2 separate regions of the Homo sapiens genome follow, and region 1 is linked to region 2. The links come from fine-mapping of genetic effects on gene expression. A gene starts in region 2. The other region holds a variant in brackets. All regions are shown on one strand. Distances are between the middles of the regions.

What was found. PIP is the estimated chance that this variant, and not a neighbour inherited with it, causes the effect. A credible set is the group of variants that fine-mapping cannot tell apart.
Region 1: its variant is the best candidate, but not a certain one, in a credible set for the expression of CSK in CD4 T cells (CEDAR, PIP 0.58).

Annotation. Positions count from the first base shown.
Region 1 is chr15:74,913,214-74,918,431 of GRCh38, reverse strand. No RefSeq gene overlaps it. Among named protein-coding and RNA genes, the nearest start is that of FAM219B, 9.0 kb to the right of the region's middle. The variant T/C (reference allele first, on the strand shown) is at 3,125.
Region 2 is chr15:74,779,855-74,785,335 of GRCh38, reverse strand. It overlaps CSK (C-terminal Src kinase), which reads right to left and starts at 3,256. Exons shown (of 13, transcript NM_004383.3): 1 at 2,616-3,256. RefSeq lists enhancers at 897-956, 967-1,096, 1,979-2,554, 3,597-3,666, 3,687-3,806 and silencers at 2,787-3,046, 3,157-3,376.

The DNA.
Region 1 (5,218 bases), 130 kb before region 2:
TAATTTTTGTAATTTTAGTAGAGATGGGGTTTCACCATGTTGGCCAGGCTGGTCTCGAACTCCTGACCTCTCAGGTGATCTGCCTGCCTCAGCCTCCCAAAGTGTTGGGATTACAGGCGTGAGCCACCGCGCCCAGCCAGATGCTCAAGAAATTTTAATTTCTTGGCCATGTTTTTGTGGGCGGTTGAGGCCAAACTGCAGGAGGCGAAGGAGTGATCTTAGGCAATGAGAGTGATTTGAAAGATGGTGAGGGTTGAGGCATTGGCTTTTCTTTTACAAGCAGAAGATTTATTTGTAGCTGGATAGAACTAGTAGATGGAAAGTGATTCTTGTTGCCTTTGCTTTTTTTTTTTTTTTTAATGTGTTTTTGTTTTGTTTTGAGACTGTCTTGCTCTGACACAGGCTGGAGTGCAGTGATGTGATCATGGCTCACTGTAGCCTCGACTTCCCGGGCTCCAACAATCCTTCCGTCTCAGCCTCCAGAGTAGCTGGGACCACAGGCGTGCACCTCCACACATGGCTAATTTTTGTGGTTTTGGTCTCATGTTGCCCAGGCTGGTGTCAAATTCCTGAGTTCAAGCTCTCTGCCTGTCTTGGCTTCCCAGAGTGCTAGGATTACAGGCGTGAGCCACCACAGCTGGCCTCCTTTGTATCTTAGGTAAGGTTGAGATTTCAACATTTTATTTTATCTGATTCACTCATGTATACCCTTAGAAGGAAACGGGTACTCTGGTAAGTTTTTTGTTTGTTTGTTTGTTTTTCTAAGACGGAGTCTTGCTCTGTTGCCCAGGCTGGAGTCCAGTGGCACAATCTCGGCTCACTGCAACCTCTGCCTCCCAGGTTCAAGCGATTCTCCTTCCTTAGCCTCCTGAGTAGCTGGGATCACAGGCATGTGCCACCACGCCTGGCTAATTTATTGTAGCTTTAGCAGAGATGGGGTTTCACCATGTTGGCTGGACTGGTCTTGAACTCCTAGCCTGAAGTGATCCGCCCACCTCACCCTCCAAAGTGCTGGGATTACAAGCATGAGCTACTGCACCTGGGGTGCTCTAGGAATTTTTACTTTTTTTTTTTTTTTTCGAGACAGGGTCTTGCTCTGTCACCCAGGCTGGAGTACAGTGGTGTGGTATCAGCTCACTGCAACCTCTGCCTCCTGGGCTCAAGCAATCCTCCTATCTCAGCCTCTGAGGAGCTGGTACTACAGATGCATGCTACCACACCCAGCTAATTTTTGTATTTTTTTGTAGACCACGTTGCCCAGGCTGGTATGGGTTTTTTGTGTTTTGTTTTTCTTTTGAGACAGAGTTTTGCTCTGTCGCCCAGGCTAGAGTACAGTGGCATGATCTCGGCTCACTGCAAGCTCTGCCTCCCAGGTTCATGCCATTCTCCTGCCTCAGCCTCCCGAGTAGCTGGGACTACAGGTGCCCGCCACCACGCCTGGCTTATTTTTTGTATTTTTAGTAGAGACGGGGTTTCACCGTGTTAGCCAGGATGGTCTCAAACTCCTGGACTCAAACGATCCACCTGCCTCGGCCTCCCAAAGTGCTGGGATTATAGGCGTGAGCCACCGTGCCCGGCCTGGTATGTTTTTAAATGGTTGAAAAATCAATGAAAAATATTTCGGCCAGGCGCGGTGGCTCACACCTGTAATCCCAGCACTTTGGGAGGCTGAGGCGGGTGGATTACAAGGTCAGGAGTTCGAGACCAGCCTGGCCAATATGGTGAAACCATGTCTCTACTAAAAATATAAAAATTAGCTGGGCATGGTGGCACGCACCTATAGTCCCAGCTACACGGGAAGCTGAGGCAGAAGAATCGTTTGAACCCAAGATGTGGAGGTTGCAGTGAGCCGAGATCATGCTGCTGTACTCCAGGCTGGGCGACAGAGCGAGACTCTGACTCAAAAAAAAAAAAATTTTTCATAATATATAAAAACTGTATGAAATTCAGAATATGGGCCGGGCATGGTGGCTCACACCTGTAATCCCAGCACTTTGGGAGGCCAAGGTGGGTGGATCACAAGGTAGGAGATCAAGACCATCCTGGCTAACATGGTGAAACCCCGTCTCTACTAAAAATACAAAAAATTAGCCGGGCGTGGTGGCGGGCACCTGTGGTCCCCACTACTCCGGAGGCTGAGGCAGGAGAATGGCATGAACCTGGGAGGCGGAGGTTGCAGTGAGCCGAGATCATGCCACTGCACTCCAGCCTGGGCGACAGAGCAAGACTCTGTCTCAAAAAATAATAAATTCAAATATGGTGTCCATAAATAAGGTTTTATTGGAACACAGTCACACGCCCTCATTCATTTACATATTATCTGTGGCTTATTTTTTTGCCTTTTAGTAAATTATGGTAAGATCATACATAAAATTTACCATCTTGACCTTTTTTTTTTTTTTTTTTTTTTTTGAGATGGAGTCTCGCTCTGTCGCCCAGGCTGGAGTGCAGTGGCGCCATCTCGGTTTACTGCAACCTCTGCCTCCCAGGTTCACGCCATTCTCCTGCCTCAGCCTCCCGAGTAGCTGGGACCACAGGCATCAGCCACCACGCCCGGCTAATTTTTTATATTAGTAGAGACGGGGTTTCACCGTGTTAGCCAGGATGGTCTCAATCTCCTGACCTCGTGATCCGCCCACCTGGGCCTCCCGAAGTGCTGGGATTACAGGCATGAGCCACTGCACCTGGCCTCATCTTGACCATTTTTGAGTTTACAGTACAGTGGCATTAGGTACATTCACACTGTGCATTATCTATAGCTGCTTTTGCATTAAAATGACATAGTGAGTAGTTGGACCAGAGAGTACTATTTGCCTGTTTACAGAAAGTTTGCCCACCTTTACTCTAAAATAATAGAAATAATTTTCACAAGAAGCAAACTTACAAAAATCACAAGGCATGTTACTAGAAGGCAAAAGTGACTAGATAAATTCAATCTACTGGTGAATTTGTCTCATCAAACTTTCTTCACACACACACCCATTAGGCAAATTGAATCAACTTCTTTGTTGTGCTGGAAAAAGTAGGTACATCTTGGCCAGGCGCGGTGGCTCACGCCTGTAATCCCAGCACTTGGGGAGGCTGAGGTGAGTGGATCACCTGAGGTCAGAAGTTTGAGACCAGC[T/C]GGCCAACACAGTGAAACGCTATCTCTACTAAAAATACAAAAAATTTACTGGGCATGGTGGCGAGCGCCTGTAATCCCAGCAGGAGGCTAAGGCAGAAGAATCGCTTGAACCTGGGAGGCGGAGGTTGCGGTGAGCCGAGATCATGCCATTGCACTCCAGCCTGGGTAACAAGAATGAAACTCCATCTCAAAAAAAAAAAAAAGTAGGTACATCTTTTAGCTTGATGGATCCTAGCTCTACCTAAAGAAGTAGATGGGTTGGGTGCAGTGGCTCACGCCTCTAATCCCAGCACTTTGGGAGGCTGAAGCGGACGGATCATGAGGTTAGGAGTTCAAGACCAGCCTTCCCAACATGGTGAAACCCCGTCTCTACAAAAATTAGCTGGGCATGGTGGTGCACGTCTGTAGTCCCAGCCACTCAGGAGGCTGAGGCAGGAGAACTGTTTGAACCTGGGAGGCGTAGGTTGCAGAGAGCCGAGATCGTGCCACTGCATTCCAGCCTGGCGACAGATCAAGACTCTGTCTCAAACAAACAAAAGAAGTAGATGGTAAATATGAGGATCCTTCCACAGCTTGACTTGGATGGACAGGGCTTCTACCCTAACAGGATGGGGTCTCTAGCCTTTTTCTTTCCTACAGTTTGTTTTAATTAAGTTTCAAAGCAGGCCGGGTGCGGTGGCTCACGCCTGTAATCCCAGCACTTTGGGAAGCCGAGGTGGGTGGATCACGAAGTCAGGAGATCAAGACCATCCTGGCTAACACGGTGAAACCCCATCTCTACTAAAAATACAAAAAATTAGCCAGGCGAGGTGGCGGGCACCGGTAGTCCCAGCTACTCGGGAGGCTGAGGCAGGAGAATGGCATGAACCCGGGAGGCGGAGCTTGCAGTGAGCCAAGATGGCACCACTGCACTCCAGCCTGGGCGACAGAGCCAGACTCCGTCTCAAAAAAAAAAAAAAAAAAGAAAATAAATTTCAAAGCAATTAATAGTTTGTCACATTTGTTTATATGTTATATATCTACACACGTCACTTCACCCCTGAATACTTCAGCAAAAATCTGAGAAAAAGGACTTTTGCCTCCTACATAAACACAATTCTGTTCTATTTCAAGAAGTTTAGCATCAGGCTAGGCGCAGTGGGTCACGCCTATAACCCTGGCACTTTGGGAGGCCGAGGCGGGTGGATCACCTGAGGTCAGAAGTTCGAGACCAGGCTGACCAACACTGAGACACCCTGTCTCTATTAAAACTACAGAAATTAGCTGGGCGTAGTGGCTCATGCCTGTAATCCCAGCTATTCAGGAGGCTGAGGCAGGAGAATCGCTTGAACCTGGAAGATGGAGGTTGCAGTGAGCCAAGATTGGCCATTGCACTCCAGCCTGGGCAACAAGAGTGAAACTCCGTCTCAAAATAAAAAAAAAAAAATAATAAGTTTAGCATCAAATACATACAGTTCATATTTCTGAAGAGTCCAGGCCAGTTGTAGAATGTCCTGTAATCTGCCTGTGTCTGTTTCCTAATTATTCAAATCCAGCTAAACATTTTTGGCAAAAATACTATGTGAAATTCCAATTGTATCCCCTCAGGAGGGACATGATGTCAGTTTGTCCTCATGTCTTTTTATTACATACACCTACCAGCTGATGGAAGGCAGCATAATGTAGCAGTAAGATGAGAAAATGGGGTTTGGATTCAGACTTGGGTATAAATCCCAGTCTACTGTATAACAGTCATATGACTGTGTATATGTTGCCTACACTTCTGTCCTTTTGTTTCCTTATCTGAAAATGGGAGCCACCTCACAAGGATATAACAAGAATGAAAGGTTAGCAGATTATGTTCTATTTGTTATAATCATTTTTTTGGTTGTGCTTGGGAAAATGGCTTAAGCCTAGTCATTCTCTCCTAAGTTTTGCTAACTATCACTTCAGTTTTTCCTGGCTGTTTGTTTAACTGGATGCCAGAGAGCTTGTCCTTAGCAGCAGAGCCTATTAGTCTATAGTCACATTTTGCAGTAACATTGTTTAGTTTGCCATTTTGCTGCATTGGAGAAGTTTGGTTGAACGCCAAGTGAGATGACTCTGTGCTGGGCT
Region 2 (5,481 bases):
TGATGGCGCTGCAGCAGGCCAGCCTAGAATGTTCTGTAGCTTTTTAGAAGCAACGTTACTTAGACCGCGTAGCACCATGAGAAAATGCCCACAGACGCAGTATTAAATGAAAAAAGGTGTCACGGCACACACACTCCAGTGACAACGACAATGAAGGAAAAGGATGGGGAAAAGACTGGCAGTGAACTCCAAAATGCTAACACAGTCACTGCCTGCTGAAGAAATAGTGGGTGATTTTTGTTTCATTTTCTAAATTTCCTGTAGCGCTGTTTTGTTATTTTCTAAATCAAGAAAATGAGTACATTCATGGTTTCCCTATAATGAGCTCAGATTCACTTCCCTGGGACCCACCTGCTCCCTAGCTCTGGCCCACGTGTCTGGGACAATTTCTGCCATGGGATGCCTTTCTCATTTGGGACAGTCCCTCAGACATATGAGAATCTGTCCCTACTTTCTCTTTCCCAGACTCAGTCAACATCCCTGGCTCTTTGAAGATGACCTGTCAAGGTTTTAAAATCCTTCAAAAGATGGAGCCCAGAACCGCACCCAGGTGGGTCTGCCCCCTTTGGGGGGCAGCCATGTCACACTGTGGATCCTGGGTCTCAACCCCTACCTATACTTGTTTGGAGGAAGCTGCATTCTGTCCCCGAAATTTCCAACCCTTGCCGAGGGCCACTCTGTGTGGCTCAGCCTTTTGGGGTCTGGCCCCCCTGCGGTGGTGAATGGGAACATTTTCTGCTTTTTCCTTGCCCCTGACCCAATGCAGAGAGAAGAGCAGCTGCTTCTGAGAGGGTGGAGGGCACCAAGCTCACCAATGAAAAGCACATCCCTGCACACGTGCCAGCCAGAAGCCAGACTCCTTTCTTCAAAGGCCCTGGGACCCTGGATCACACCTTCACAGCTCACAGTTGGTAAAAAAATAAAATAAAATAAAATAAAAATTAAAAAGGCTGACTGGGGTGGGAGGGAGCTAACCATGTCAGGCTCCAGCCCCAGTCCCTCAGGCTGGAAAGGAAGTTAGGGCTGGGTGTGGGGCCATGTGAGGGGAGTCTCACAGGCCCAGGACATCTGGGTCCCCTCCACTGTGCATGTCAGGACAGCCAGAAAAAAAAGTGAAAAAACAAAAAAACCCTAAATCGTGAGCAGGGACCCAGCAGGACAAAACTGCCAGCAGCTCCAAGGGAGCCCAGACACTGCTCAGCACCCACCAGGGCAATGCCTGCTCTCCTGGGCCAGAGGATCCTGCCAGGCCTCAACCTCACCCCTGCTGTCCTTGCCCTGTTCCTGCTGTGGCCACAACCAAGAAAGACACTGGAACCGCCAGGGTACTAGGAGCTTGAAACAGGCCCCCTGGGTGTCCCCACTCTCACAATGCTCCCATGTCCCCAGTCTGTAGCCTGCTGCCAGTGGAGACAGAGCTTCCACGGTTCCCATGTGACCCCATTTATATCCTGAACTTGGCTGCTCCTGTGCCAGCTGGGCCATAGGTGTGGCGAGTGCTGGGTCAGGACTGACCACCAGGTTGTTTCAACTCAGAGCCGGGGCCAGGACCGGACCTTCCTGCCACACCACACAGATGGCCATACACCACACATTCCCCACATCTCCTGCTAGCTGACCCAGCCACAGCTGGAGCCGGAAGCCCTTTCACTCCCTCCAGCCCTCTGCAGGGAAGCACGTGCTCAACCAACAAGGTCCCTCTGGGGCCGGGCTGGGGGCCTGTGTCCCCAGTGGGTGAAGGTGCCTGCCTGGTTTCCTTCCACCCACAGCCATCCAGCCCTGTATAGCTGGGGATGAAAGGACAGCCAGCCTAACTCCACTAGAGGCCTGGGGTAGCAACTTCTCCCTTTGAGCCTCGGTTCCCGGGTGTACAAAATGGGCGGGGAAGTGAACTGGTAGTTAAGCTCCAAAAAATCTGCTGGCTGGACACACCCCTTCCTGACACCTGGTCTGGGCCACAAAGAGCCTAGGAGAATGGGCTGCCCAGGGTGCCAGAAGGTGGGGGCATGGTGCTAATGCTCCGTTACCTCCCCCCGGGCAGAAGGCCTGCCCAGTTTCCCACCCAAAGATCCCTTGGCTTAGGCCTGGTCTTCTGAGAGGCCAAGGGTGACAGGCTCAGTCCTAGGACCTGGGCTTCTAACTGCTCACCCGAGGTGGCTGGGCCCTGGGCTTGCTTGCAGCCCGCAGGGTCATGGTGGGGTAATGAGGGAGGGGTCAGAACCAAGCAAGCCAGGGCACCTGCGGGGAGGCCCTGTACAGGGAAGGGCAGGGGAGTCCAGCACTCTCTCTAGGGACCTGGCCCATACGGATCCTCTTCCTCCAGACTCCAGCCACCTCCTACTCTGAGCTCCACAGAGGGGGGGACTCGGGATGACCCGAGAAGACGAGTCCGTGGAGCTGCAGGGCAGTACCTCCCTCATGCACTCCCTTCCAATTTGGGTTCTGACAGTGGCTCCTGGGAGAATTCGAACCCGTGCAAGGGAGTAAAGGAGAGAAGGGAGAAGTGGGAGAAGAGGGGAATGGGAGTGGACGCGACAGTGGCAGCAACAGAGACTAGACGCGCGACCTCCACCCTCTTCCCTCCAGGGGACACTCCGGGACGGCCAGGCACTCACCTCTCTTGGGGCACTGCGGTCCGGGCCACCTCGCCGCGGGCGGCATCAGCGGCCTGCGGGACGGTCCATGCGGTCAGGGGGGAGGGGAGGGGCGCAGGGGTCCCCAGGGGGTGCGGTACAAAGAGGTATGGGTGCAAGGAGAGGGGAGGAGGGACCGCCAGGCAGAGGCAGGGGGACGGACGCACGGCCCGGGTCGCGGAGGGAAGAAAGGCGGGGGAAGGGGGCGGGAGGGAGTCGGGGGGAGGAAACAATGTAGCCGGCGCGGCCCCGGCAGAGTTCCGCTTCCGAGCGCCGCCACTGAGGTTCGATTTTGGAACGTCGCGCTGGCTGCCGGGGGCCGCCCCGGACGCTCGATCGGGGCCGCGGGGCTCCTCGCGCTCCACGCCCCGCGGGCTCCGGCGGCCAGAGGCTGGCTGGGGCGGGAGGGACGGCGGGCCGGGTTACGGCCCCGACGGCGGCGCAGCCGGGCGGTCGCCCGGCTCGGACCCCACCCCGGCAGAAGCCCCCGGGCAAGGCGCGGGTGGGGCAGGAGCGGGAGGGCGGCAGCGGGCTCGGCGGCGGCGGCGGCCAACCTCGGCTCGCCCAGGGCTCCGCTGGGAGGAAGCTCGCAGGCCTGGCGAGAGGAAGCGCGGCCCGGATCCTCCGCCCGCGGCAGCGCGCCTGCGCGAGGGGGCCTGCCCGGCGCGCGGCGGGGCGTGGGCCGGCGGGGCGGCGCCCCCTGCCGGGCGCCGGGGGCACTGCGGGGGGTGTGTCCGCGCCCACGCCCTGCCCCCACTTGCCGCCTGGCTGCGTTGAAGGCTCCGAGGGTCTCTCCTCAGCCGGCCTGGGAGCAACCTCCCAGCCTTCTCTGGACGCAGCTTTCCCGCTGCAGAAGCGCTGGGGGCCGGGCCTGGGCCCCTCTCCTCAGGTCTGTTTGTGGAGAGTGGGCCTGATTCGCAGCAGAAAGCCTTCATTCATTCATTCACCAACATTTCCTGGCGCTGACATCGTGGCGGAGCCTGCTCTGGAGTCTATTGGCAAGACCATTTCACTACCGTCAAGGCGTTCTCGGTCGGGTGGGGGTAGGCTGACAGGCCGACAGACAACGGCAAGGAAATAATTGATCAAAGTGGAGAGGTGGTGGACACGGTTCCCAGGAGGCAGAAAGAAAACTAGGGCTAACGGGGAGACCTCACACCTCACAGAGCCGGGACCAGGCAGAGGGAACAGCATGCACAAGGGCGGGGAGTGCGGAGGGAGCTTGGTGGCTTCTGGGATCTAAATATAGCTCAGGCGGCTGCCGCTTGCAGTGTGGGTGGGGGAGAGTGGTGGGAGATGGGTTCCTGCAAACAACAGGGGCAAAAGAGATCCAAAGAGCCTCATGGGACTTTCTTGGAGTTTATGTTCAGCCTGGAGGCAATAAAGAAGTTGTCAGCAGCTCTGTGACCTTGGGCAAGTTACTTAACCTCTCTGTGCTTTAGTTTCCCCATTTGGTAAAATAGGTGATATATAATGGCACCGACTTCTTAAGTTTTTGTGGGGAGGGGAGGAAATGAGTTAATACGTTTAAAGTGCTTAGTATGCAGTAGCTGGCACGTGAGGAGCCCTCCGTTAAGCAAGGGCTGTTACATCACTGTTAACGAAAAGCAGGGAGATGACCTGCTCTGAGCCACAGGAGAGGACAGCGTGCTCAGGCATGACAGGGGTGGGAGAGTGCAGGGTGGCGGGGGAACAGAATGGGGATGCAGTGATGAGGGTGAGACCGGGGAACAGAATGGGGATACAGTGATGAGGGCGAGACCAGAGACTCCAGCGTAGGGAGGAGGTAAAGGTGGGGGACTTTCTAGGGACTAGACCCTGAAGCAAGGGTCAGGCTTGGGTGGACAGAGGGAAGAGGCACTCTTGGGGTTGGGGGGGAGGAAGTGGGGCATGCTGACAAAGTCTTGGAACACAAAATAAGCATGAAGAGGCCCGAGGGAGCGAGAAGAGGGCAAACAGCCCTGTGGGAGACGGAGCTGGGAGACAGTGTGGCTGCAGATTGTTTTAAAGAGCCTCGGATGCCAGGAGGAGTTGCCCCCAAAACCACAGGTCGGCCCTCTGACCCAGGGCACCCTTAGGCCGGTTTCCCAGCTGGAGCCAGCCCTTTGGAGAGGGATGTCCTTTGAGGAGACAGCCAGTAAGTTTCAGAGATAGGTGTGGTGTAACAGAAAAAAGATGAATTTGGGGTTCAAGTCTCCAAGTTAAATTTCAACCCGTCCACTTACTAGCTGTGTGACTTAGGGCTAGTTACCTAAGGTCTCTGAGCTGTTTCCTCTTTTGTAAGATCAGGCTCAAAATATACTTCTCTCATGATAGATAGTGCAGATTCAGCAAGATAACGGCCTGGGGGTGAGGGAGTGGAAAGGGTGCTCAGCAGAGCTGGTTTCCCTTTCTTTCCTCTGAGGTCAAGATGGAATGATAATATGGGGCCGGATGGGGGGCCGCCTCTCAGCCTACAAGAAAGCACTTCAGCAGCTCTGCAAAGCCTTCTGGGAGGGAGAAATTGACATCTCCCCTCCCCTGGCTGAATCAGCTAGCAGAATGGGAAAGAAAAGACTGGGGATTTGGGGAAAATACTCTAATCCCTGTTCCAGTTTTGTCACCAACCTTTCTTTATCCCCAAATGCACTTGACTTTTTCCCCTGGGTGTGCTGTGGCCCAGCTGTGAACTTTGGAGTCAAATAGACCAGCATTTGAATCCTGGCTCCACCTCTTCTCAGCAAAGTGAAATAAATTTTTTAATCTTCCTGTACTCCAGGCACTGGGGATAAAACCATAAACAAATCGATAAAGGGCCCCACTCCCACAGACCTGTCCTCTGGTGGAATTATTGGGCTGGGCGCCGTGG